5 separate regions of the Homo sapiens genome follow, and regions 2, 3, 4 and 5 are each linked to region 1. Evidence: fine-mapped expression QTL. A gene starts in region 1. Each other region holds a variant in brackets. All regions are shown on one strand. Distances are between the middles of the regions.

The links. PIP is the estimated chance that this variant, and not a neighbour inherited with it, causes the effect. A credible set is the group of variants that fine-mapping cannot tell apart.
Region 2: its variant is the best candidate, but not a certain one, in a credible set for the expression of PLCL2 in whole blood (TOPMed, PIP 0.50).
Region 3: its variant is the best candidate, but not a certain one, in a credible set for the expression of PLCL2 in whole blood (INTERVAL, PIP 0.85).
Region 4: its variant is the best candidate, but not a certain one, in a credible set for the expression of PLCL2 in esophagus muscle (GTEx, PIP 0.52).
Region 5: its variant is the best candidate, but not a certain one, in a credible set for the expression of PLCL2 in nasal epithelium (TOPMed, PIP 0.78).

What each region holds. Positions count from the first base shown.
Region 1 is chr3:16,882,277-16,887,381 of GRCh38, forward strand. PLCL2 (phospholipase C like 2) reads left to right here and starts at 2,679. Exons shown (of 6, transcript NM_001144382.2): 1 at 2,679-3,090. The coding sequence starts at 2,764. LOC105376972 (a long non-coding RNA gene) reads right to left here and starts at 2,066. Exons shown (of 3, transcript XR_002959616.2): 1 at 1,569-2,066; 2 at 1,130-1,294; 3 at 652-988. RefSeq lists enhancers at 823-1,531, 2,534-3,029, 3,030-3,529 and silencers at 1,832-2,501, 2,712-3,041.
Region 2 is chr3:17,078,128-17,083,232 of GRCh38, forward strand. All of the region lies in intron 5 of PLCL2 (phospholipase C like 2), which reads left to right. Among named protein-coding and RNA genes, the nearest start is that of PLCL2-AS1, 26 kb to the left of the region's middle. The variant C/T (reference allele first, on the strand shown) is at 2,312.
Region 3 is chr3:17,050,150-17,055,254 of GRCh38, forward strand. All of the region lies in intron 4 of PLCL2 (phospholipase C like 2), which reads left to right. It overlaps PLCL2-AS1 (PLCL2 antisense RNA 1), which reads right to left and starts at 4,435. Exons shown (of 3, transcript NR_046640.1): 1 at 4,377-4,435. RefSeq lists an enhancer at 4,271-4,460. The variant C/CA (reference allele first, on the strand shown) is at 2,087.
Region 4 is chr3:16,819,147-16,824,251 of GRCh38, forward strand. No RefSeq gene overlaps it. Among named protein-coding and RNA genes, the nearest start is that of PLCL2, 63 kb to the right of the region's middle. RefSeq lists an enhancer at 1,451-1,630. The variant A/C (reference allele first, on the strand shown) is at 2,562.
Region 5 is chr3:17,006,917-17,012,021 of GRCh38, forward strand. PLCL2 (phospholipase C like 2) reads left to right here. Exons shown (of 6, transcript NM_001144382.2): 2 at 2,758-5,105. Among named protein-coding and RNA genes, the nearest start is that of PLCL2-AS1, 45 kb to the right of the region's middle. The variant T/C (reference allele first, on the strand shown) is at 2,920.

The DNA.
Region 1 (5,105 bases):
CCTACAGTTGGGCTGTTTGTGGGATGAAGAAGTGCTTCTATAACATCAGCAGGCGTGTGACCAGTGGCTTGTGGGAGACAAGCACTTATGGGAATAAAAGGGAACCTGGCACAGGCCTTGGGCCTCTGGCATCATTAGTTACAGGTCTGCCAAGATGCTTTGGGAAACATTTTAATTTAAATGCCAAGTCTATTTCAACGAAGCTCCCTGGTATGACCTGTTGGGAGTCCAGAGTGAGATGGATAGGTGCTCACTTTGGAGGGCACTGGTGAATCAGCTGGTGCTTCTATAAAAAGCATACTGGGGGTTAAACATCACTAAGTCCCTACTCAGCCCAGGAAAATCACAGTGAGAGCCATGGGATCTATGGCTTTCATAGCATTTTACTAGTGACTCGTAAATGCAGGAAAGATTAGATACTAACACACAAAAGGCAGAGACACCTCTGGGTGTTTATTCAAAATATCAAACTTAGAGAACTTGAAGAATAAAGACCCCAGCATTCTTTTTTCCTCCCCCGAAGCATACTCACAGGCTACTATGACTATAAATTTAATAAAGCAGAGTTAAGAGCCTGATTTGAATTATTTCAATATTTTTCCTCCAAAACTATCACAAGACAGAAAAAATAAACATTTTGAAACACAACGAGAAAAAAGAAAGAAAAGAGCTGAGACTGAATAAAACACTAAGCATTGTCCTTCGATGTAAAAAACTATTTCTGTTAGTGTGTAGGCCCAGGTTGGAAAGAGATGTACAAAAACACGAATTCAGAGGATCGGAAGAATTAAAACGCCCCCAAGAATAACATGAAAGTATTTGATGTTGCTTCAGGGGCAAGGGCGAGTATGTATATGTACGTAAATCCATTTCCTCAGAGGCTCCTTGGCAGTCTGTTACAACACCACGCTAATGAAAGCCAGGTCTTTAAGTTCACCCCGCCTCTGGACTATTAGTTTCTCCTTTGCGCCCTGCGGGGACTGCATTCCTGGAAATGAAAGCACACGAGTTGGGGAAGGGCTGGGGTGCCAGAGAGGGTAGGAAGCTGGAGCCCACGGAGCCTGGGATGGAGAGGTGGGTGGGCCCAGGCCTGGGGCGTGGGGTGGCGGTGGAAGGTCTGGGGTCTCACCCTTCGGAGTTTTGAGTCTTGTCTGGCTCCAGGGAGGGAGATCCAGGGGAGATATTTACGAACGGAAGCCACACGATCAGCTTGGACTTTTAGGCCAGTCACTCCGCCTTAAGTGGGTGCGTGAGAACCAGAAGAGGGACTGGCTGTAGCGCTGCAAGTGAGATCCTGTCCCAAAAGATGAGCCTGACTTAGGCTGGGCCCCGCAGGCCGGCAGGGCCAGCCGGCATCCCTGGTAGGGGAATCGGGAAGGTCTCAATGATAAATCTGTGTGTGGAGACTCAGAGGGCACGAAATAGGCTCTGCTGATGTCCTCTGCCCCTCATAGCCTGCCAGCCACCCCAGCCTTCACCCCTGCCTCAGCATCCTTCCAACTAGTTGAATCAATCAGGAGCCCAAGGGAAAGGAATTGGTCCCAGTGTATGAAATGAGTCTGACCTACTGGGGAAGTCAGAGAGGAGTGTCCCGAACTGGGTGGGAAGGAAACGAGTTCCGTGCGCGGGGCTGGGGCAGGAGTGAGGCGCAGCGGCCGAGATCCTGAGCCCCGGGACCCTTGTTCCGGGCCCCGAGGCCTACTTGGTAGTTGCCCCTCGGGGTTCCGGGTGGGTGACTGACAGTTGCAGCAGCTCTGGGGAGGCGAAGGATAGGCAATGACTTGGGGCTCCCGTCCACTCGGCTTTGAGGTCCCCGCGGCCCGATGACCCGGCCTCGGTGACAGCAGCCGCGACGGCGGCAATCTCGACAGGGAGCTAGGCGGCTCATGGTGGGTCAGGGGGCGACCGAGGAGGGACCACGCGGCCTGTAGGGGGCAGCGCCGAGCTCGGGAGGAGACAGCAGCCGGCGGGTGGGGTGGGTCTGGGCTGCCCCCTCCGGGAGCTGCCCCGGGGCCGCACGGCGATTGTCATACCCGGCCGCCCCTGCCCGCCGTGGGCTTCCTCTCGGCGCCGCGGGCCTTAACGGGGCTCTGAGGGGACGTGACAGAGCTCGGCACGCGGCAGCCTCTGGGGAGTTAGGGTCCGGAGAGACCCACGCGTCGCCCCCCGCCCGCCCGGGGCCGGGAGATCCTCGGGAGCCGCCTCCGCGTGTCCAGAGAGTGTCGGGGCGGCCGCCACTTCCCCTCGCCCTTCGCCGGAGGTGGGCGCCTTTTCCTGCGTGGCGGGTGCTCCGACCCCAGTTGCTCTGAGCCCCGGGGAAGCGCGCCCCGAGCCCCTGACGTGGGCGCCCCGTTACCTCGGGGTGGGTGCCTGGGGCCCCTGAGGTGGGCGCGGGTTGCCCCGGGGTGGGCGCCCGGCCCGCGCGGGTTATTTTTGGCGCCCGCAGAGGCGCGTGTGTTGGGGCGTGTTTTCCTTCCCCAGGTGCCGAGAGCCGGGGCTCCGCCGGCGCCGGAGCTGACTCGTCTCTCTCTTCTTTCCCCTGCAGGAATCTTCCGATAATTCTGCCGCCGCGACTTTAACCGTGCGCAAGGCGAGAGCTCGAAACAAACATCACATCTAAATTAAAAAAAAAAAAAAGCGGAAGAAGCGGCCGAGGCGGCGGCGGGAGGAGAGGAGGAGGGGCCGCGCGCGGCGGCCCGAGGCGGCGGCGGGGACGCGGGGACGCGAGGACGCGGCTTTGTGCAGGCGGGTCGCGGGGCGCCCATGGCGGAGTGCGGCCGGGGGGGCGCCGCCGGCGGGGCCCTGCCCACCTCCCCGGGCCCGGCCCTCGGCGCCAAGGGCGCCCTGAAAGCCGGAGTGGGGGAAGGCGGTGGCGGGGGAGGTCGCCTCGGCCACGGGCGGGCGCGCTATGACAGCGGCGGGGTTTCCAACGGAGACTGCAGCCTCGGCGTGTCCGGGGACGAAGCCCGGGCTAGCCCTACCAGGGGACCCCGCGGCGTTGCGCTCGCCCCGACCCCCAGCGCGGTCGTCTGTACCCTCCCCCGGGAGAGCAAGCCGGGCGGCCTGCCCCGCCGGAGCAGCATCATCAAGGTAGGTGGGAGAAGGGCGCTCATCGCCCACCCTCAGCCGTCCTTGGATTCTATTTTCTCCCTGGGGGAGTGGTGGTGGAAGGAGGAAGCCCACTGCTAACAGGAACCACTGGAGCATGGGTGCTTGGGGTGGTTGAGCGGGGATTGGATGCAAATGGCATGTGGAAAGAATGGAGAGGTGATCCCTAATGTGCAGGGGGAGCTGTGCTCAGACATCCTCAGTTGAACTTGGGGCTGTCACCTCTTCCAGGATTGGTCTGGCATTAGGGCCTTGTACCTGCCGGGGTAGGGCATACTCTTATGTGTAGCCTAGTCTGGTTAACAGACTCCCTGTAAGATTTCTATTGTATCTTAAACACAGATAGGGATTATGTGAAATGTGAGAACATTTTCTTAAAAATCCCAGGCGGCGAACAGAGGGTGAACAGAGATTATTTAATAGGGTTCTTCTGATCCGTATACAGTTAGTTGGCTCTTACAAATGTTTACACTTCGAGGGTGCAAAATCTCCTAATATCCGGTCACTCAGTCACAAAGAAAAATAGAGTAGATTTCTGAACATAAATGCAGATTTCCGCTTTCTTAGGCTCAAAAGCTCAGAGATTACAGTTCCACACGATTTAATCTTTTTCCTTGCTGCAGTAGGCAGGCCTCGAGTACTGTGGAAGTTCTTTTGGGCAGTTTGCTTGGTTTTGCTTGCACAGTGTTAGCGGAAGAAAGCCAGCGATTGTTTTGAGCATTTTAAACTCAAGAAGTAATATTAGGAACTCCCGAGTTTGTGTTAGTTTCATTCTAATGTTACATTTTGGTTCGCAATGTAAAAATATTTTTCATGACATGAAGTGCAAAAAAAAATAGTTGATGAGCTAAGAAGAGCAGAGCCTTAGGCAAGACCAGCTCATTCGGCTCGCTCAAGTTTGGAGCAAATGAAAACATTGCTTTCTGAAAATCAAGGAGTTATCAGGACAGGGAGCAGCAAAGCAAATTGACAGGCTGCACCCACCCTTCCTGTGGCTGATAACTGGTGGGAGGGCAGAACGTGCCACAGTAAAGAGAGTTGGCAGTGGTGGTATCTGAAATTTTATTGGACCTACAGAAATCTTCCAAGTACTGTGAAAATGTCTGATGGTGTTATCAACTTATGCAGTAATCTAGTGAAATATACCATCTTGCTACTCTATGTAAGAGGCAATTGTGAAACTGCATTTCCCTTTGTCATCTGTTTGCGCAGTTTATGTCTGGGCAAGGACACAATTTGAAGGGTTTGGAGATGAAGTGTATTAACTACCTGCAGCACACACGTAGAGATAAACTAAGGAAAGTAAAGTGTCTTTTTGCTGCATACATAGCTTTTAGTGACTTACGTTTTCTTTTACTCTGTAGCTTATGTTTCCATGGAAGTTGCTTTCAACTGTGCATGATAATCAATCCTATTGACAGAGTTAGGTGACATTTCTGTTTTTATTTGTCATAAAATATTTGTGGTGATTTTGCATTGTGGTGTTAATAAAATTTGAGGTGAAAATTCCAAAGAAGATACCAGCCTACCTAATTTTAACCCCTTTCTTTTAATTGTTTTGAATACTTGTTTTTGCATTAAAAAATCAAACTTTATTAGTGTCCATAGTGAGATTCATAGTGTAACTTACTGAATTACAAAAACATTTGTTTTAATTTTACATTACTGGGCGATAAGCAAGAAGGATGATTTGTTAGTATTTCTGATATATGGAATTGGGAACTTGTCAATAGATACCATTTCTTAATTGAAGGCTCTAGAAGCACATGGGGGAAATGATTAATGTTCAAAAATCACTGATTTTAGAAATGATATTGATACTTATGTTGAATTCTGAAACTTTTAAGGATATTTTGTCATTTTTCTTCTTTGTAAAGAAAGCATTTGGCTTCTTGTTCACCAGTGTAACCCTAGATATAAAGTGCCAGGAATGTAGTAGCAGCTCAATAAATTGCTTATTGAATGAATGGAGAAAGTACATGTTTTCTCTGAGTTCT
Region 2 (5,105 bases), 200 kb after region 1:
GTGTCCTTGGATCAGGTTCTCCCCCTGCTTTAATCCACTTTGTCCAGGAAGGTATTGTCAGCACAAAATATGGCTCCCTTTAGTGGCTGTTTCGGTTATCTATTGCTGTATAACAAACCACTGCAAAACTAGTGGCTTGAAACAATGACTTCTCATTTCTCGTGATTCTTGGGTTAGCTGGGCTCAGCCAGATGGTTTTGCTGCTCCATGTGATATTAGCTGGGATCACTTAAGAGATTTGTTCTGCTGGGAACTCAGCTTGGCCTGGAACATCGAAGAAGGTACTCACATGGCTGGATCTCATCTGGGGTGGCTGGGATGGCTGGGCTTTTTTTTTTTATAGCATCTATATCGTATCTTGGACTTGAATTAAGCTTGTTACAACCGAAGATGTTTTCCAGATGAATGGCTGCCAGGCTAGCTCTCCTGACCTGTGCCCCTCTACCATCAGAAACAAGGCTATCAATAAACCCTAAAAGTAATTAGAGATTCATTCTCTTTAGGAACCTAAAACTTCTGCCAAAACATAAATCAATAAACCAGATGGTTTTTGCACCTGGTAGACATTTGTCTTGATTTTCTTCATTTTTACCTGAGGTACAGTGCTTATCTTGAAGACTTAAAGACTGGCATTTGTTTCCTTTTTGAAATTACCATGATGGTTGATGTATGACTCCTTTTATTGAGGCTCATATCTTTTAGTTATTTTTATTTATTATAGGTAGTATAGTATGTTGTCTCTTTTCCTGAAAAGCTATAATTGACTGAAAGCCATTTCTCTATTTAGTGTGTGAAAATTTCTCAGAATGGCTCAGAAAATCAAACTATAGTAGCGTTTGTCATTAGGCAGGCTGTTCTTTCTGGTCCATTTGAAATACAGTAAAACCTCAAACATTGGGACCCCACTCATGTGGAGTTTGTGATTACTCAGCTAATGTTTGACTGTGTAAATGGTGTGCTTGAAAGATTAATAGCGCGAAGGAGGTGCTTACGTGCATGCTATTTTCCCTGGTGTTTCCAAGGGCTCTCACGCCCATGGCCCAGCCCCACTTGCCTCTCAGTGTCCCCTCGCTCTCTGCATCCTCTCTCTACACAGCTGGGCCACCCTCCCCTCCCCTCTGGCCCTGGTCCCTGCCTGGAACCCTCTCCTGACACCCCACCTTCTGTGCTTAGGTCATGGCTCACCTCCACTGTCTGGAGACTCCAAAGGCTGCTCCTGAATGCTAACCCTACCTCTGCCACCAGAGTGGCCAGCTCTGTGCCAGACGAGGCCACTGTCCTACTGCATGGTGGAATTTAGCCCTTCCCATGGCCAGGTCTGTAGCAGAGGGAGATGTAGTCAGTCAGAACCTAGAAAGCTTTGTAGCATAGAAATCATGCTGCTAAATGGTTGGGCTCCAGAGGTGCCATATGTTGGAGTCACGGTCACTCCTCTGTGGCAGGCAGCATCAGCCCCTGGGCCTGCCGCCGTCCTTTCCTGCCCTGAGTTTCCCCAATTCAGACACCGCCTCCTCCGTGGTGCTGCCGAGGAGCCCCCAACCCTCCGTCTTTGGTGAAGGAAAAGTAAAATTGTTTCTAAGGATGAAGGCATTCATTCTGAATTTAAAAAATTGAATCATATTTAAAATTATTAACTTTTGTACAAACCTCTGAGCACAACCATGGGAAAATTGGAGACTAACTGTGAATGTGATGACAGCCCAAATATAGGCAAAAAGTGTGGCAGGCAAAGGGAGCCACATGGAAAGTCAGATCCATGCAGCCCACTATCCCTTCATCATCAAGACACTGCCTCGAACCACAGAAACATCTCTTTGGATCCAGCAAAAACCAAGGGCAGGAGCTGTGCTTAGAGGGCTCTCCTTTCCGCTCCTGCACAGAACCCTTCATCCCCCTCTGGCAGCTTCTTTGCACCCTTTGGGGTGGAGGTCAGGGTGGAGGGAAGGCGGTCTTCCTGCTGTGGGGAGACAAGCTGATTTGCAGCTCATGTTCCATGCCCATCAAACGTGTGAGTGCACATACAGGAAGCCAAAAGGACAGAAAACATCACGCACTCTTAAAATGAGCCTAACGTCCTGTACAAAAGCCTGTGTCCTGTTGCTGTAGGTTTAGGTGACTGATGATTAGGGAGTCTTTTTTCAACCGTAAGGTTTACTGAGACTTCAGTGGGAAGTGGACCTGACCAAGCTAGGAGGCCTTCCTTAATTCTGATGAATGTGCCACGATCTCAGCCAGCCTCAAAAGAACTCTTGAAAGGGGAACTATCAATGTATAATAATGAGAGGCGATTTAGAATCCGTAGCCAAGACTC[C/T]TACAATCCATTCATTCTTCTTTTTTTTTCCAGACGGAGTCTTTCTCTGTCCCCCAGGCTGGAGTGCAGTGGTGTGATCTTGGCTCACTGCAACCTCCACCTCCCGGGTTCAAGTGATTCTCCTGCCTCAGCCTCCCGAGTAGCTGGGATTACAGTCGCCCGCCACCATGCCTGGCTAATTTTTGTATTTTTAGTAGAGACAGGATTTCACCATGTTGGCCAGGCTGGTCTTGAACTCCTGACCTCAGGTGATCCGCCCACCTCGGCCTCCCAAAGTGCTGGGATTACAGGTGTGAGCCACCACACCCGTTTCATTCTTTTGTTCACTCATTCCTCATTCAACAAACACACAGTGGAAATCCATATTTCTGTTTCTGCTTTTAATCACAGGAAGAGTGAATTGTCTACACAGTTGTTGATGTGCTGGATACATGAAAAATGTAGTGTGTGTTTCAACCTGCTTGCTTTAAAATATTGCATGCAGTCTGTGGGGTTCAACTCTCTATAGTTGTGGCCTCACAGTTTAGTTTATCCAACAGGAAAATAAAACAAACATACCAGAGAGAAAGGTGTGTGTGTTTCAGTGTGATTTGCTGTTCAGACTCTACCCGTAATCTCTCTAAACTCAGTGTCCTTTTTATGAAACGAGAATGGTAATAGCACTTCCCTTGCATCCCCTCTTTGTGGAGCAGGTGGTATCAGTGAAGGTATCTAAATTCTGCTGTGTTCCTCTCTGCATTCCCAAATAGATAAGAAAGACAGGAAGGAGGAGTATTTTTGTGCCTCAGACTCCCATAATGGTATGAGTACCCTCCTCCTTCTCCTCCCTCACACTGCATGTGATTTGGAAGAAAAGTGTCTGCTGGCCCCCAGGGAATGGAAGGTGCTAATCTTTGCTGTCTTCAACATCCAAGCATGTGGCCATTACACAGGTGGCAGAGGGCAGGGGAAGTCTTAGCTGCCGCACTGGATCCCTCACCTCAGAAGTAAGACAACTGTTTTTCTCTAATAGATAGTTGGACAAAAGGACTTTGAAAAAATTAGCCAGATGTAGAATCCCTGTTGTTTTGCCCCTACGTCTGAATAAAAGCAATGACTTGTGATTGTTAAATGGCTCCTAAAATGTAGCACTAACAGATGTGTCTTGAAATATTTTTAATATATTAAAAACTAGAACATCTTTTGTGGTCATACAGAAAGTATGGTGATTAGCCGAGGGTTGAGCACAGCTGGGGTGCGGTTCTGGCATTTGGAGCTGCCATCATTCTTTTCCTGGCTGCTCTGGCCTCTGATCCAATCCCAGGTAAGCCACAGGCTCAGCCAGAAAAAGCACAGTCACGCCAGACTCGCAGCAAGAGCTGCTGGGATCCAGCCACTGCCCTTAGTTACATCTTTTAAAGATTACTTTCTGGGCCTAAGTAAGAACCTTAAATATTTTGACCTAAGGTTGTTATAACTCTTTCAAGATGAAAACAAAATAGAATAAGTTAAAAAAATTCAAACCAGAATGTGCGAAATCAAATGACATTTGAGTTGTTCAACTGAAAACATTGCAAAGCCAGCTTTGTGGAAGGAGTCTTCAAAACCAGACACCCTGTGTCAGTGGGTGGCAGTGTTTTAAGTAACCTTTGCTCTTTTCAAGTCTTTTGAAGCAATGAAATATGAACACTGCTACAACAAACACCCCCACCTCTTTCAGAGTTTTTTTTTTTTTTTTTTTTTGAGACAGAGTTTTGTTCTTGTTGCCCCGGCTGGAGTGCAATGGTGTGGTCTCAGCTCACTGCAACCTTTGCCTCCTGGGTTCAAGCAATTCTTGTGCCTCAGCCTCCCAAGTAGCTGGGTTTACAGGCACCCGCCACCATGCCAGCTAATTTTTTTTTTTTGTATTTTTAGTAGAGACGAGGTTTCACCGTGTACTCCTGACCTGAGGTGATCCGCCCGCCTCGGCCTCCCAAAGTGCTGGGATTACAGGCATGAGCCACCGCGCCTGGCCAGAATTGTTCTTCACTCATGCTACATGCCTTACCTCCAAGACATCTTAAACATGTAGTCTTAGACACATAGAACAAAATGAAAGTGATGTGGACAAAGTTCAGCAGCTCCTCAAGCCCAGATTTATTGCCTTTGGGAGTCCTTTGTGTCTCGCCTTGGTAATGTCCAAAGGCCTATTCTGTTTAAGATACCATGATTACTTCTCTGAAGTTGAGAAACATAAGATTCAACCAGATGAAGAATTCTGTTATTACCACATTAATTATCATATGCCATCTGGGGATTTTTGTTTTTAAATACCCTGTCATCATGTGGTAGATCTATATATGCTGACACGGAAAGATCACTAAGACATAACTTTTCGTGAAGAAAAAAGGAAACCAAAGAACAATATAGATTGCTTGATTGTATTTACATTAAAAGTAAAATAAAATACCTATTTGTAATATATATATAATGCCAAGAAAAAGACAAAACTCATTGTTTAGGGGGCAGCTGTGAGATTAAAGGGGAGACTTTCACATTTTACTTTAATTACAATACTTTAATTGCATTCAACAGATGGTTATGGAGCCCTTACTCTGTACCTGGCACTGTTCTAGGCTCTGAGGATACAGCAGTGATCAGAAGACAAAAATTCCTGCCCTCGTGAAGTTTACATTTAGTGGAAGAGACAGACAATAAACCAAGCAGTAGAGTATGGCAATAGGTGTTATGGAAAAAGCAAGGCAGGGAAGCAGTAAGGAGAATTATGGACAGGAAGTGGGAGTTCTAATTAGACAAGATGGGGCTGTCAGGGAAG
Region 3 (5,105 bases), 170 kb after region 1:
CCCCTATCTCTCTCCTTATACAGAAATCAAATCAAAATTTAAATCTGTGACATCAAACTGTGAAACTACTGCAAGAAAACATTGGGGAAACTTTCCAGGCATTGGATTAGGCAACGATTTCTTGAGTAATACCCTACAAGCACAGGCAACCAAAGCAAAAATGAACAAATGGGATCACATCAAGTTAAAAGGCTTCCACACAGTAAAGGAAACAAACAACAAAATGGAGAAATAACACACTGAATGGGACAAGGAATTAATAACCCGAGTATATAAGGAGCTCAAACAACTCTGTAGGAAAAAAAGTCTAATAATCCAATTTTAAAATGGGCAAAATGTTTAATAGGAATTTCTCAAAAGAAGACATACAAATGAAAAACAGGCATATGAAAAGGTGCTCAATATCATTGATCCTCAGACAAATGCAAATCAAAACTAAATGAGATATCATCTCACTGCAGTTAAAATGGCTTTTATCCAAAAGTCAGTCAATAACAAATTCTGGCGAGGCTGTGGAGAAAAGGGAACCCTCATACATTGTTGGTGGGAATGTAAATTAGTACAACCATTATGGAGAGCAGTTTGAAGGTTCCTCAAAAAAACTAAAAATAGAGCTACCATATGATCGAGCAATCCCACTGCTGCATGTATACCCAAAAGAAAGGAAATCAGTATATCAAAGAGATACCTGCACTCCCATGTTTTTTGCAGCATTGTTCACACTAGCCAAGATGTGGAAGCAACCTAAGCATCTACCAACAGTTGAATGGATATTGTGTGTGATACTTATACACAATGGAGTGCTATTCAGCCATGGAAAAGAATGAGATCCTATCATTTGCAACATGGATGGAACTGGAAGTCATTATGTTAAGTGGAATAAGCCAAGCACAGAAAGACAAACATCACATGTTCCCAATTATTTTTGGAATCTAAAAATCAAAACAATTGAACTTAATGGAGATAGAGAATGGAAAGATGGTTACCCGAGGCTGGGAAAGGCAATGGGAGGTCAGGGCGGGGGAGGTGGGGATGGTTAATGCGTACCAAAAAATAAAAGTTAGGAAGAACGAGTAAGACCTAGTATTTGATAGCGCAACAGGGGTGCTGTAGTCATTAATAATTTTATTGTACATTTTAAAACAATGAAGAGTATTATAGGATTGTTTGTAACACAAATGATAAATGCTTATTAAGTGGATAGATATTCCATTTTCCATTATTATGCATTACATGCCTGTATCAAAACATGTCACGTACCCCATAAGTATATATACCTGCTATGCACCTATAAAAATTTAAAATAAAAATAAAATTTAAAAAAACCATTGAGGAGAAAGGATATCTGCCTGAACAGGTGTTTAATGAAGCTGAAAGTACCCTGTTCTGGGGGGAAAAAAAAGTCACAGTGGAGAATTGTTAGTAAGGAAGAGAAGCAAACAGCAGGATTTAGGGCAGGAAAGGATAGGCTAACTCTACTGTTTTGTGCAGATGCAGTCAGGTTTATGGTCAGGACTGCCCCCATCTATAAAGCTGCTAATGCCCAAGCCTTAAAGGGGAAAGATAAACACCAGCTGCCAGTCTTTTGGTTGTACAACATGGAGGCCTGAACAACAAGAGCTTCTTCTATATTAGTTTCATGATGCTTTGTTCCTGAAGTCAGGAAGTACCTTGCCAGTAAGGGAATGCCTTTTAATTTTCTTTTGATATTGGACAATGCCCTTGGTCACCCAGAACCCCATGAGTTCAACACTGAAAGCCATGAAATGGTCTCTTTTCCCCCAAGCACAATGTCTCCAAGTCAGCATGTAGATTAAAGGGTCATAAGTACCTTTAAGGCTCATTACAGAGGATGCTATATGGAAAGGATTATTAATGCTGTGGAAGAGAACCCCCAATAGAGAGGACATCATACATGTTTAGAAGGATTCAAAATCCTGTTGAAGATACCATTGTTGCTACAGAAAAATCCATGAAAGTCATCGAGTCCAAAACAATAAATTCCTGCTGGAGAAAACCGTCCAGATGTTCACACGATTTATAACAGAGCTGCTGAAAGAAATCATGAAATAGATTGTGAATATGG[C/CA]AAAAAAAAAAAAAAAAATTGGGGGGGGGTGAAGGTCTCAGGTTATGGATTTTGGAGAAAATCAAGAGCTCATGGACACCACACCAGAGGAATTAACAGAAGATAACTTGACGGAGATGAGTGCTTCCAAACCAGTGCCAGACAATGAAGAATATGTAGAAGAAGCAGTGCCCCCAAACAAATTGATATCAGACAATCTGGAAGAAGGGTTCCTATTATTCAAGACTGCTTATGACTTCTTTTATGACAAAGATCCTCCTGATGATACTGGCACTGAAACTAAAGCAAAAAGTGGAAGAAGTACTGGTACTGTATGGAAGCATTTTTAGAGAAGTGAAAAAGCAAAAAAGACAGAAATTGCAATGCATTGCTGTAAAGTTACACTGAGTGTGCCTGCCTCCCCTGCCTTTCCTTCTGCCTCCTCCACCTCTTCTGCCTCTGCCACCTCTGAGACAGCAAGACCAACCCCTTCTCTCCTTCCTTCTCCTTAGCCTACTCTGCTAGAAGATGATGAGGATGAAGACCTTTGTGATGATCCACTTCCACGTGATAAATAGTAAATACATTTTCTCTTCCTCGTGATTTTCTTAATGTTTTCTTTTCTTTATCTTACCTTATTGTAAGAATATAGTACATAATACATATCATATACAAAATATGTGTTAATCAACTGTTTATGTTACCAGTAAAGCATCCATCAGGTCCAAAGTAGGCTATTATTAGTAAACTTTTTGGGGAGTCAAAAGTTACATGCAGATTTTTGACTGCATGCAGAGTCAATGCCCCTAACACCCCTGTTGTTGAAGGGTCAATTATATTTGCAAATGGAAACCTGAGAGCCTTATAACTTTTTGTTTTGTATTAGTCTGTTCTCGTACTGCTATAAAGAAATAACTGAGACTGGGTAATTTAGAAAGAAATGGGCTCATGCTTAATTGGCTCATGGTTCCACAGGCTGTACAGGAAGCATGATGCTGGCATCTTCTCAGCTTCTGTGTAGGTCTCAGGAAACTTACAATCATGGCAGAAGGTGAAGGAGAAGCAGGCCCATCTTACATGGCTGGAGCAGGAGGGTTGGAGGAGGTGATGCGCTCTTTTAAACAACCAGATCTCATGAGAACTCAAAAGGGGGGATGGTGTTGAACCATTCATGAGAACTCTGCCCCATGATTCAGTCACCTCCCACCAGGCCCCACCTCTAGCACTGGGGGTTATGTTTCAACATTAGATTTGGGTGGAGACACAGATTCAAACCATTTATTCTGCCCTGGCCCCTCCCAGATCTCATGTCCTTCTCACATTTCAAAATACAATCATCCCTTCCCAATAATCCCCCAAAGTCTTAACTCATTCCAGCATTAACTCAAAAGTCCAAAGTTTGATCTGAACAAGGCAAGTCCCTTCCACCTATAAGCCTGTAAAATCAGAACAAGTTACTTACTTCCAAGTTACAATGGGGATATAGGGATTGAGTAAATAATCCCGTTTCGAAAGGGAGAAATCAGCCAAAAGAAAGGGACTACAGGGAGCAGTGTCCAGGGGCTGTACAGAGCAGCTGGGCCCTGGACCTGGTCCATGAAACCATTCTTCCTGCCTAGGCCTCAGGTCTGTGATAGGAGGGGCTGTCAGGAAGGTCTCTGAAATACTTTTCAGGCCTTTTCCCCATTGTCCTGACTATTAGTATTTGCCTTTTAGTTATAAAATTTCTGCAGCCTGCTTGAATTCCTCCTCTGAAAATGGGCTTTTCTTTTCTACCACATGGCCAGGCTGCAAATTTTTCCAACTTTTATGCTCTGTTTCCCTGTTAAATATAAATTCCAGTTTCAGGTCATTTCTCTTCCTGTGCATATGAGCATAGGTTGTTAGAAGCAGCCAGGCTACATCTTGAACACTTTGCTGCTTAGGAATTTCTTCTGCCAGATATCCTAAATCATCACTCTCAAGTTCAAGGTTCCACAGATCCCTAGAGCAGGGATACAGTGCAGCCAGGCTCTTTGCTAAAGCATAGCAAAAGTGACCTCTACTCCAGTTCCCAATAAGTTCCTCATTTCCATCTGAGACCTCCTGAGCCTGGACTTCATTGTCCATGTCACTATCAGTATTTTGGTCACAACAATTTAACAAGTCTCTAGGAAGTTCCAAACTTTCCCTCATCTTCCTGTCTTTTTCTGAGCTCTCCAAACTGTTCCAACTTTTGCCCATTACCAGTTCCAAAGCTGCTTTCACATCTTCAAGCAATGCCCTGCTTCTCAGTATCAGTTTCTGTTTTATGAGGCTTCAGGAAACTTACAGTCATGGTGGAAGGCAAAGCAGGAGCAGTCATCTTCACATGGCCCAAGCAGGAGAAAGAGAGTGGGGAGGTGCCATACATTTTTAAACAACCAGATCTCTTGAGAACTTACTATATACTACCAAGGGGGGATGGTGCTAAACCATTTATGAGAATGCTACCCCCATGATCCAATTACCTCCCACCAGGACCCACCTCCAGCACTGGGGATTATATTTCAACATGAGATTTGGATGGAGACACAGATCCAAATCGTATCAGTTCTCATTTATGTCAGAATGTTTCTCAGCTCTGTTTTACAGAAGTGAAAGGTTCTTTCCTGGGAATTGAGAGACCCATGTTCTGGTGCCCTCTGTACCATGTCCCTGCTGTGTGACTTTAGTTTAGTCACTTGACCCTCTCTGCCTCATTTTCCTTCTTCTAAGTGGCAGTGGATTATGTGATTCCCTGATGGCCCTATGCCTTCTAAATTACAGTGAACTAAGATCAGTTACATAAACAGCAATTTGGGAATGGCTGGATTACAGTTACTGAAAAAGATTAAAAGATTAAACAAGTCATCCCATACAATGTTACAGGACACATAAATTGTAGCCCATCATCATTACTTTCAAGGAGGAAAGTTAACACTTTGAAGATGAGACACAGGAAACCTGCATCAGACTCCCAGGCCCCATTTGAAATCCACAGCATCTTTTCTCTTAAAGACTGGATATTGAACCACCACAT
Region 4 (5,105 bases), 63 kb before region 1:
CATTCACTGGGGTTTTGTGAACACTGAAGTTGAACCCATATTTTCTGCCTCCTAATTCAGGGTTCATTCTCCTCCCTCATGCTTCTTCCTGAACCCTTCTGCTCAACACAAAAGCTTGCTTTTGCTTTCCTCCTGTTTTGTCCAAAGATGGGGGTGCCACATATCCTAAACATCATATTTAAAAAAAGAGAGAAAAATGCATGAAATTTTGGATTAAGTTGAGATGGGTCTGAATACCAGCACTTTTTTGGTCTCTGAGTCTGTTTTCCTCACTTACAAAAACGACTTCAATAATCCCTGCCTCTCAGGATTCAGTGAGATTCTGTACATAAAACCTAGTACACAGCCTGGCCACCCAGGACCCTCATTAATTGATGGTTTCCATAAAAATACATATTTGTATACCAATGGCAGTGACAAGATGCCATGGGCCCTTAAATAGCACATATGAATTACATAATAACTATATTCATGGAAGCTTTTCCTAACCAGGGAAAGCCAGCTAACCATAAAGCCAGCTGCCTCTGCAGGCCTTCCTCTTCACCACAGTGTTCTCTGTTAAAGTCAAGCCTAGTGAGTGGGGAGATTTACATGGCAAATTAGTGCATGAGTTTCAAGAGATAGCCTCCTCCTGCATGGGGGCTAGGAGACAGCAGTTTGACTAAATGCATTATTATTATGATATATTTTTTAAATCACAGGCTGGAAGCAACACAATTTGATGCCTTGGAATGTTCAGCTTGGTCTCTAAATATTGCATTGATATTGAATTGTCTCTTTTCCTCACAGCTGATAAAAAACTGAGATTTGTGTTTCAGATGGCAATTAATAAGGATAATCTCCATTCTTCATTTTCATTTTAATGCAGAAAGCAGTGTGTGCATTCTATGACTGATCTTGTGGTCTGCCTTTGATGGCCAGTCCCAAACACTCTTACTTATCATAGAGGCAGGCAAAGAAATGTGGCAAGACAAACCATTATTGCATAGTTTGTCAAATTTTAAAATATTTTTAAAAAGTAATGGATTAGCAGCTTTCATTATGGAGTTCTTTAGGAGAACATTTCCAACATTGCAGAAAGGTCTTATGAGCTGTTCTAGACGATAATTTCCTCAGGCTCTTCTGTTCTGTAGATCCCTGAAAATCTTGTCTAAACTGAATATCTATTAGTCAGGATAGCCTAAGTTTTGCTGCAGTAACAACTTCCAAACCTTGGTGGCTTCAAACAACAAAGGTCTATTTCTCAGTCATATTACATGTCCAATGCAGGACCTAGGTTGAGAAAGAACCCACCATCTGGAAAATTGTCAATCACTCTGGCAGAGGTAAAGAAAGTTCTGTGGGTCTTGAACCACCAATTGGTGCCCCAGATCAGAAATGACATGTCATCTTCATTAACAACCCATTGGTCAGAACAAGTCATATAATCCCACCTAGCCACTAGGGGAACCAAGAATTTCAGAGAGAAAACCTGGATATCAGTGAGCTGGTCTGTTGACATCAGTTGACATGATCACTTACTCATTTTTGCTCATGAATTTACTCAGCAGATGTTTGAATATCTGCAGGTAAGCCCTGGGCACACAGAGATGAGCAAGCAGGCATGATTCTTGTTCTTAGGGAGCTTACTAATTATTTGCCAGTAAATGACCATTAAAAGAACAATGACAGTGACAAGACATAAGTATTCTGATAAGGAAAGGACAAGATGCTTTAACATCAGCAAAGCAAGCAGTTTTCATGGGTGTCAGTAAGATAACCGGAACTATGAGTATTTGTTTCAGTTAAAGAATCCAGAATCAGCACTAGGATAGGAAAGCAGGGGCTTCTGTTTATTCTTTCAATCTCTTCATGTGCAGATTTGCTCCATTCCTGAATGAAGCCCAAGAGAAGTGTTTAGCTAGCCCCTCCCTGCCAAGTGGTCATTTTGACTGCAAATGCCTTGGGCAGGTTCCTGGAGGTTGCATGGACACTTGCCTATGTGGGCACACTAGCCCATGCTCACAAGATTCTCCATGGCACCCAGGGCTGGTGTTCCTGACACAGAGGCCGAGCTGGGCAGCAGGTGTGCAGTCCCGTCTGGATTTTCACACTGGAGAAGCCAAGAGCCCAGCGTCACTTCAGTGAGTCTCCATGGCATTGTGGATGGAGGCAGCAGGGAGGTGCCACCAGGTCCTGCCTGGATGGCTCTTGCTCCCTTCCAAGTTCCCTGGTACTTTGCCCTTATCTTCTGACCTGCCCATCCACGGAAGAGGATATGTGGCTGAGTGTCACAGTTCAGCTCCTGTTATCTGGTTTAGGGGGTCTCTACAAAGTACAAATTCATTAAATCCCCATTTCCAATGATGTGATTCTTTTTCTTTATCCTTCCCCTTAAATTCATTCATTCATTTATTCATTCAAAATAGACATGCTGGGAGACAGCATGACAGTTACAAGCCTGGACTCTGAGGCTAGACTTCCTGAGTTTGCATCCCAGCTCTGCCACTTGTAGCGTGTGACCCTGAGCAAGTTATTTAACCCTTTTGTGCCTCATCTATAAAGTGGGAATAATAATTGTA[A/C]CTACTTCAAATGCTTGTTGTGAGGATTGCATTTGTTAATAGAAGTAAAGTGCTTTGAAAGTTACCTGGCACATAGTAAGCACTCAAATTAGCTGTTATTATTATCCGTATTTCATTATTATTGTTCCTAAGTACCTGCCGAAGTGCTCAGCAGCACAGTTTTCTTTTAAAATTAGGGCTGGGGAAGATACAAAGTCAGAGAAGCAGCTGTGTAGCATGGTGGCTAAGGTACAAGCTTTGCAGTCAGCCAGACCTGGATTCAAGTCTGGGCTCTGTCATTTACTAACTGTGTGACTTTTTGTAAATTATGAAGCTAGCTCATCTGTAAAATGTGGATAATGATTCTCATGGTTTTCACAGGAATTGGCTGAGATGATGGATGTACCTCAACACTTAGCACCTATTGAACACTCAATACAGTCTGGCTGTAGAAGTAGCACTAGGGGGAGAAGAAGACAGTTAGTGGATGCTAGACAAGGAAACAAGCACATAATAGATGGTTGTTCTTGAGATGTGCAGGACAGTGAGGTGGAACCATGCAGGACAGAAGTATGGGCTCCAAAAAGGAAGCAGGGATTTCTGAGGGGGTGATCATAGAAGGTTTTTTTGTATGAGATATCATGGAAACTGGGCCTTGAAGGGTGGGTATGGATGGGTCAGGCAGGAAAGGAGGGAGGAAGCAATCCACATATAGGAAGAGGCAGGCCTTGAAGCCCAAGCTAATGTGATCTCATCTTATTGGGTAAACAATGGGGAGCCATTGAAGGATTTTGAGTTGGAGAGTGACCTGGTCACTAAGATCAAAGAAGGAAGTGGGGAAGTAACTTCACAGAGCAATGGGGCCAATTGACATGTATTCAAGTAGAGGAGATACAAATCATAACAGTGGCATTTAGAGCACTTACTGTGCGCCTGGCGCTGTCCTAAGCCTTTGATTGCATTAACTTACTAAATCTTCATAGCAATTCCGCTGAATGGGTATTCTTATTATTCCCAAGTTACAGATGATACAGAGTAGTTAAGTGACTTGCTTAAAATCACACAATGAGAAAGTCTGGGTCCAGGATTCAAACCTAGATAGCCTGGCCCTGAGCCTGTGCTCTGCTCCATGAGATGCCTGCAGTTTTGTGGGCACCAGAGAAGGACAGAGCGAAATGGAATATACAGATGATGGGAGATGTTGCTTCTCCAAGGAGGACTGATGGGAAGAGTGATTTAAAATTCATCTTGGGATATAGGAGAACCCTGGTTCTCTGAAACATTGAAGAGGAACTATGAGTAGAAGAAGGCAGTGTAGGATGAGGGCAGCTGAGGGACCTCCTGGGAAGTAGCTTAGATGTTCTAACTTGAGGAAGAGTTGAGAGGGAGGTGGCAGAAGGGTGGTGCTTATTGGGGGTTTATTTAAAAAAGGGAGCTTTTGAAATAGAGTCCCTGACCATATAACCTAACAAAAGGTTTGTTGTGCCAGGCTAGGCACTTTCTGGGAGGGCAGTGCAGCCAGAACTGAACTGGCTGCCCAATTCCAAGCTCTGTCATTTTCTAGCTGTGTGACTTTAGGCATGTCACTTAACTTCTCTGTGTCTCAGTTTCCTCGTTTGGAAAATGAAGCTACTTACCTCATAGGGTTGTTAAGAGGATTGGACCTGCTAGTTAACGGAGAGCAGTTAGGCCTTAGGATAGTTATCCCTATGCAAGTGGTAGCTACAATTATGGTTGTTGTTATTTTTTTTTACAATGCCAGAAATATTTTTAATAGTTTTACTGAAGTATAAGTGGTATGCAAAGAATTACAGATATGTAATGTGCAGAATTTGATGAGTTTAGACATATGCAAAAACCCGTGATACCATCACTGTGATCAAAATAATAGTCACATCCATCACCTCCCAAAGTTCCCTTGTGTCCTTTTGTTTTTGGGGTGTGTGTGTGTGTGTGTGTGTGTGTTAAGAACATTTAACATGAGATCTTCCCTCTTATCAAAATTTGAAGTGTCTAATACAGTATTGTAAATTATAGGCGCTATGCTGTGCAATAGATCCCTAGAACTTAATCATCGAGCAGAACTAAAATTTTACACCCATCGAACAACAACTCTCCACTTTCCCAGTCCCCAACCCCTGGAAACCACTATTGTATTCTATGCTTCTGTGAGTTTATTATAGATAGCTCATACAAGTGGAATCATTGGCAGAAATCCTGACAGCTCAGGGCAGAAAGGGAATAGTTGTAGCTGGTGGCCCAGGCCTCTCAGGGCGAGCCCCACAGCCTGGTGGCTGGAGTACAAGAGCTTCCATGATGTTTCAGGTTGCAGGTGTGCAATGACTACCTTTGGTCAATGAACTTTCTTCTTTTTCTGGTGACAAATTCCAGAATCACCGAGGAAGCCTTTTGATTCTAATTCCTATTGTGAGAACAGATGTGTTCAGTAGCGTGCTTACTAAATAAGATACCAAGCCGAGGGGAAACATGGAGGCTTATGAAAAAATGCCAGGTACACTAACAAAGGAACTTGGGTAATCTGTGCTTCAAACCACAGATGCTACC
Region 5 (5,105 bases), 120 kb after region 1:
TCATTTATAACAAATTAGAAAGTGTAACAGAATATTAATCAGCCTGTAAAAATGAAAGAATAAAAGATTACAATGTTGGGAAAATACTATATATTTCTTAATGGATCAGTGGATAAACCACATCCATATATTTTTGTAATTGTTCTACTAGTGTCATCTTTGAGACACGATATATAAAGATTATAAAATTCCCTAACTGAGTCAGTATGTTGTCTTTATCAAAGGTAAATGCGTCTTTTAAAAACTAAAGACATCGGTCAGGCGTGGTGGCTCACACCTGTAATCCTAGCACTTTGGGAGGCTGACGCAGACGGATCACGAGGTCAGGAGATCGAGACCATCCTGGCTAACATGGTGAAACCCCGTCTCTACTGGGAAAAAAAAACTAAAGACGTCATTCTGAAAAATAGAAAATTATACATTTGTTTCATGTCCTTATGCATGGCTGATTACAAAACTAATTTCATGCTAACTCACTCAAATTGATGTAATACAATCTATGCTTTAGGGATTTGAAATGGCTTTAATATAATGTATCTTACAGATACAATTACCACAGTTTTTATGTATTTTGCACTTTATTGTTCTGAGGATATAATTGTAAAGAAATATTCTACCTTGTGGCTTTTATGTTTTGTCTTGGCACCCAGATCACAAAAGCTTCTATGGTTCATTTTGAAACTTTGAGGAAAATGATACCCATATGATTTAAAGTTTAAGTTTAATTACCTTCTGCAAATTGCTTTTGGAAGTATAGGTAGTTAGAAAGTAAAAGTGGTTTTAAATTTCAGAGATAGAGTATAGCATAATAGCTTTTTAAAATACAGATATTTTCTATCCAGAGCAGGAAAATTAGAATTGCCTTTGGATAATATTCAACAATGTTCTTTTCTTTGTCATGAAAGTGATATAATTCCAACTCCCATCCCTATTTCTTATTTATAAATACAATGAATACTGAAAATTTGTCATAGATTTTATACACATACTGAAAGGCAGTATCATCTTTTAGGTTTAAAATTGTGAAAGATCTTTTGAGGTAATTTGAGCACTCTTTTCAAATAATAAAGGTCTCCATACAAGGAAGGACTTAAATACACACACAGATGTGGATGTCAGCCCCTTAAGATGAGAACATGTTACCTTAAGCAGGAAAGTTGAACAGTGCCTTACTGGTGATGCTAACTTCTTTAGAAATAAGTGCTGCCTGAAGTTTTAAACTTAGTCCTTTTAATAATCTATTAATATTAAGGTACAAGGTGACATTGTTCTGAGCATTGGGGCATAGTAATAGGTTTTAATAAATCCAACTCTACGATTTTAGGAGCTCCAACAGCTATAATCTAGCCCTTCATCTCAGACTTACATGTCTATCTGATGTATACTGATGACTGATCTAGTATGAGACTTTGGAGAGAGGAATTTCTGCTGGAATTCCCATTTAACAGTTACTTAATTGGTTTCTACTTAGCTGTTTCTCATCATTTGGTGCAAATAGTTTCCAGAAATAGTCTAGACGTCTTAGCCCAAGTAGTCAGGAAATGGTTTTTAAACTTTAGTGTACATCCTCCGTCACATGGAGTGCTACCTTGATGTAAATTCCTGGGCACCAGCCCCAGGGAGCTGGTTCCATGGGCCTAGCAATCTGCATTGTAACCAGGTAACCCAGATGATTCTGAGGCAGGTGGTCTGGTGACAAGCCTTTGAGAAGTATTGGTGTAGGAGGCGTACGTAGAAACAGGGCCTGTTTCATGGTGTATGACCTGTACAGTTGCACAGGCTTCACACTGACTCAGAAGAGCCCTGGGCTTCACTTAGCTCCTCTGTCACCTTGAAATTCTTAATAATTTTTAATCAGGGAATCCTGCATTTTCACTTTTCTCTGGGCTCTGAAAATTGTTTCTTTCTTTCTATTTTTTGAGACAGGATCTTGTTCTGTTGTCCACATTGGAGTGCTGTGGCAAGATCATAGCTCATTGCAGCCTCAATCTCCTGGGCTCAAGCAATCTTCCCATCTCAGCCCCCTGAATAGCTAGGACTACAGGCATGAGCCACCATATCTGGCTAATTAATTTTTTTTTTTTTTGAGACGGATTCTCACTCTGTTGCCCAGGCTGGAGTGCAGTGACACAATCTCAGCTCACTGCAACCTTTGCCTCACGGATTCAAACGATTCTCCTGCCTCAGCCTCCCGAGTAGGTGGGATTACAGGCACCCGCCACCATGCCCGGCTAATTTTTGTATTTTTAGTAGAGACAGGGTTTCAGCACGTTGGCCAGGCTGGTCTCAAACTTCTGACCTTGGGTGATCTGCCCCTTCTTGGCCTCCCAAAGTGCTGGGATTACAGGCATGAGCCACCATGCCCGGCCAAAAAAAATTTTTTTTTGTAGAGATGGGATCTCACTGTATTACCCAGGTTGGTCTCAAACTCCTCACCTCAAGCAATCCTCCTGCCTTAGCCTCCCAAAGTGCTGAGTTTATAGGTGTGAACCTCCGTCCCTGGCCTGAAATTGTTCTTCTTGATAAATATGAATTGCAATTATTCAATAATGATTTCATACCTGTTGGTATTAGGCTGTCAACTGCAAGGCCAATTCTGAGCTTTAGAGATGAATGAGTATCATTCATCACAGGAATCTAGAATAGGAAATCTTAATAGTATGATTTTTTTCTAGGAAATTAAATTTCTATTCATAATCTTGAACATAGAAACCTATATTTATGTTATTCTAATATACGGTCTTTTTTTCCTCTCAGGATGGTACAAAACAGAAGAGGGAACGGAAAAAGACAGTCTCATTCAGCAGCATGCCAACAGAGAAGAAGATCAGCAGTGCAAGTGATTGTATTAATTCAATGGTTGAGGGTTCAGAACTCAAAAAGGTTCGCTCCAACTCTAGAATTTATCATAGGTACTTT[T/C]TACTGGATGCTGACATGCAGAGCCTAAGGTGGGAGCCATCTAAGAAGGATTCTGAGAAAGCCAAGATTGACATTAAATCCATCAAGGAAGTGAGAACAGGAAAAAACACAGACATATTCCGCAGCAATGGCATTTCTGACCAGATATCTGAAGATTGTGCGTTTTCCGTCATATATGGAGAGAATTATGAGTCACTGGATTTGGTTGCCAACTCCGCAGATGTTGCAAACATCTGGGTTACAGGACTGCGGTACCTAATTTCTTATGGAAAACATACACTTGATATGTTAGAAAGTAGCCAAGATAACATGAGGACTTCTTGGGTTTCACAAATGTTTAGTGAAATTGATGTAGATAACCTTGGACATATAACTCTGTGTAATGCTGTGCAATGTATCAGAAACCTCAATCCTGGTTTAAAAACGAGCAAAATTGAGCTTAAGTTCAAAGAATTGCATAAATCAAAGGACAAAGCTGGTACCGAGGTCACAAAGGAAGAATTTATTGAGGTTTTTCATGAGCTTTGTACTAGACCTGAAATTTATTTCCTTTTAGTTCAGTTTTCAAGCAATAAAGAATTCCTTGATACCAAGGACCTTATGATGTTTCTTGAGGCAGAACAGGGTGTGGCACATATAAATGAGGAAATAAGCCTTGAAATTATTCACAAATATGAACCATCCAAAGAGGGTCAGGAAAAGGGCTGGCTCTCCATAGACGGGTTCACTAATTACCTTATGTCACCTGACTGTTATATATTCGATCCAGAACATAAGAAGGTCTGTCAGGATATGAAGCAACCTCTGTCTCATTACTTTATAAACTCATCTCATAATACATACTTAATAGAGGATCAGTTCCGAGGTCCCTCCGACATCACAGGATATATTCGAGCTCTTAAAATGGGTTGCCGGAGTGTTGAATTAGATGTATGGGATGGGCCGGACAATGAACCTGTAATTTACACAGGCCACACCATGACCTCTCAGATAGTTTTCCGCAGTGTCATTGATATTATTAACAAGTATGCATTCTTTGCTTCAGAGTATCCTCTTATCTTGTGTTTAGAAAACCACTGTTCCATTAAACAACAGAAGGTAATGGTTCAGCACATGAAGAAACTTTTAGGAGACAAGCTCTATACAACATCACCCAATGTTGAGGAATCTTATCTACCATCCCCAGATGTCCTGAAAGGGAAAATACTAATTAAAGCAAAGAAGCTGTCCTCAAATTGCTCTGGGGTAGAAGGAGATGTTACTGACGAAGATGAAGGAGCAGAAATGTCTCAGAGGATGGGAAAAGAGAACATGGAGCAACCCAATAATGTGCCTGTGAAGCGATTTCAGCTTTGTAAAGAACTGTCTGAACTGGTCAGCATCTGCAAATCAGTTCAGTTCAAAGAATTTCAGGTGTCGTTTCAGGTTCAGAAGTACTGGGAAGTCTGTTCCTTTAATGAAGTGCTTGCCAGCAAGTACGCCAATGAAAATCCAGGGGACTTTGTAAATTACAACAAACGTTTTCTTGCTAGGGTTTTTCCCAGTCCAATGAGAATTGATTCCAGTAACATGAATCCTCAAGATTTTTGGAAATGTGGTTGCCAAATTGTAGCCATGAACTTTCAGACACCAGGACTGATGATGGACCTGAATATTGGCTGGTTTAGGCAGAACGGAAACTGTGGCTATGTCCTCCGGCCAGCCATCATGAGGGAGGAGGTCTCCTTCTTCAGCGCCAATACAAAAGACTCTGTCCCAGGGGTCTCACCTCAACTTCTTCACATTAAAATCATCAGTGGGCAGAACTTTCCCAAGCCCAAAGGATCAGGTGCCAAAGGTGATGTGGTAGATCCTTATGTCTATGTTGAAATCCATGGAATCCCTGCTGATTGTGCAGAACAAAGGACAAAAACAGTGCACCAGAATGGAGACGCTCCCATTTTTGATGAAAGCTTTGAATTTCAAATCAACCTGCCTGAACTGGCCATGGTGCGCTTTGTAGTGCTGGATGATGACTACATTGGGGATGAATTCATCGGCCAGTACACAATTCCCTTTGAATGTTTACAGACGGGCTACCGCCATGTCCCCCTGCAGTCCTTAACTGGAGAGGTCCTTGCACATGCTTCTTTATTTGTCCACGTGGCTATTACTAACCGAAGAGGAGGAGGAAAGCCTCATAAAAG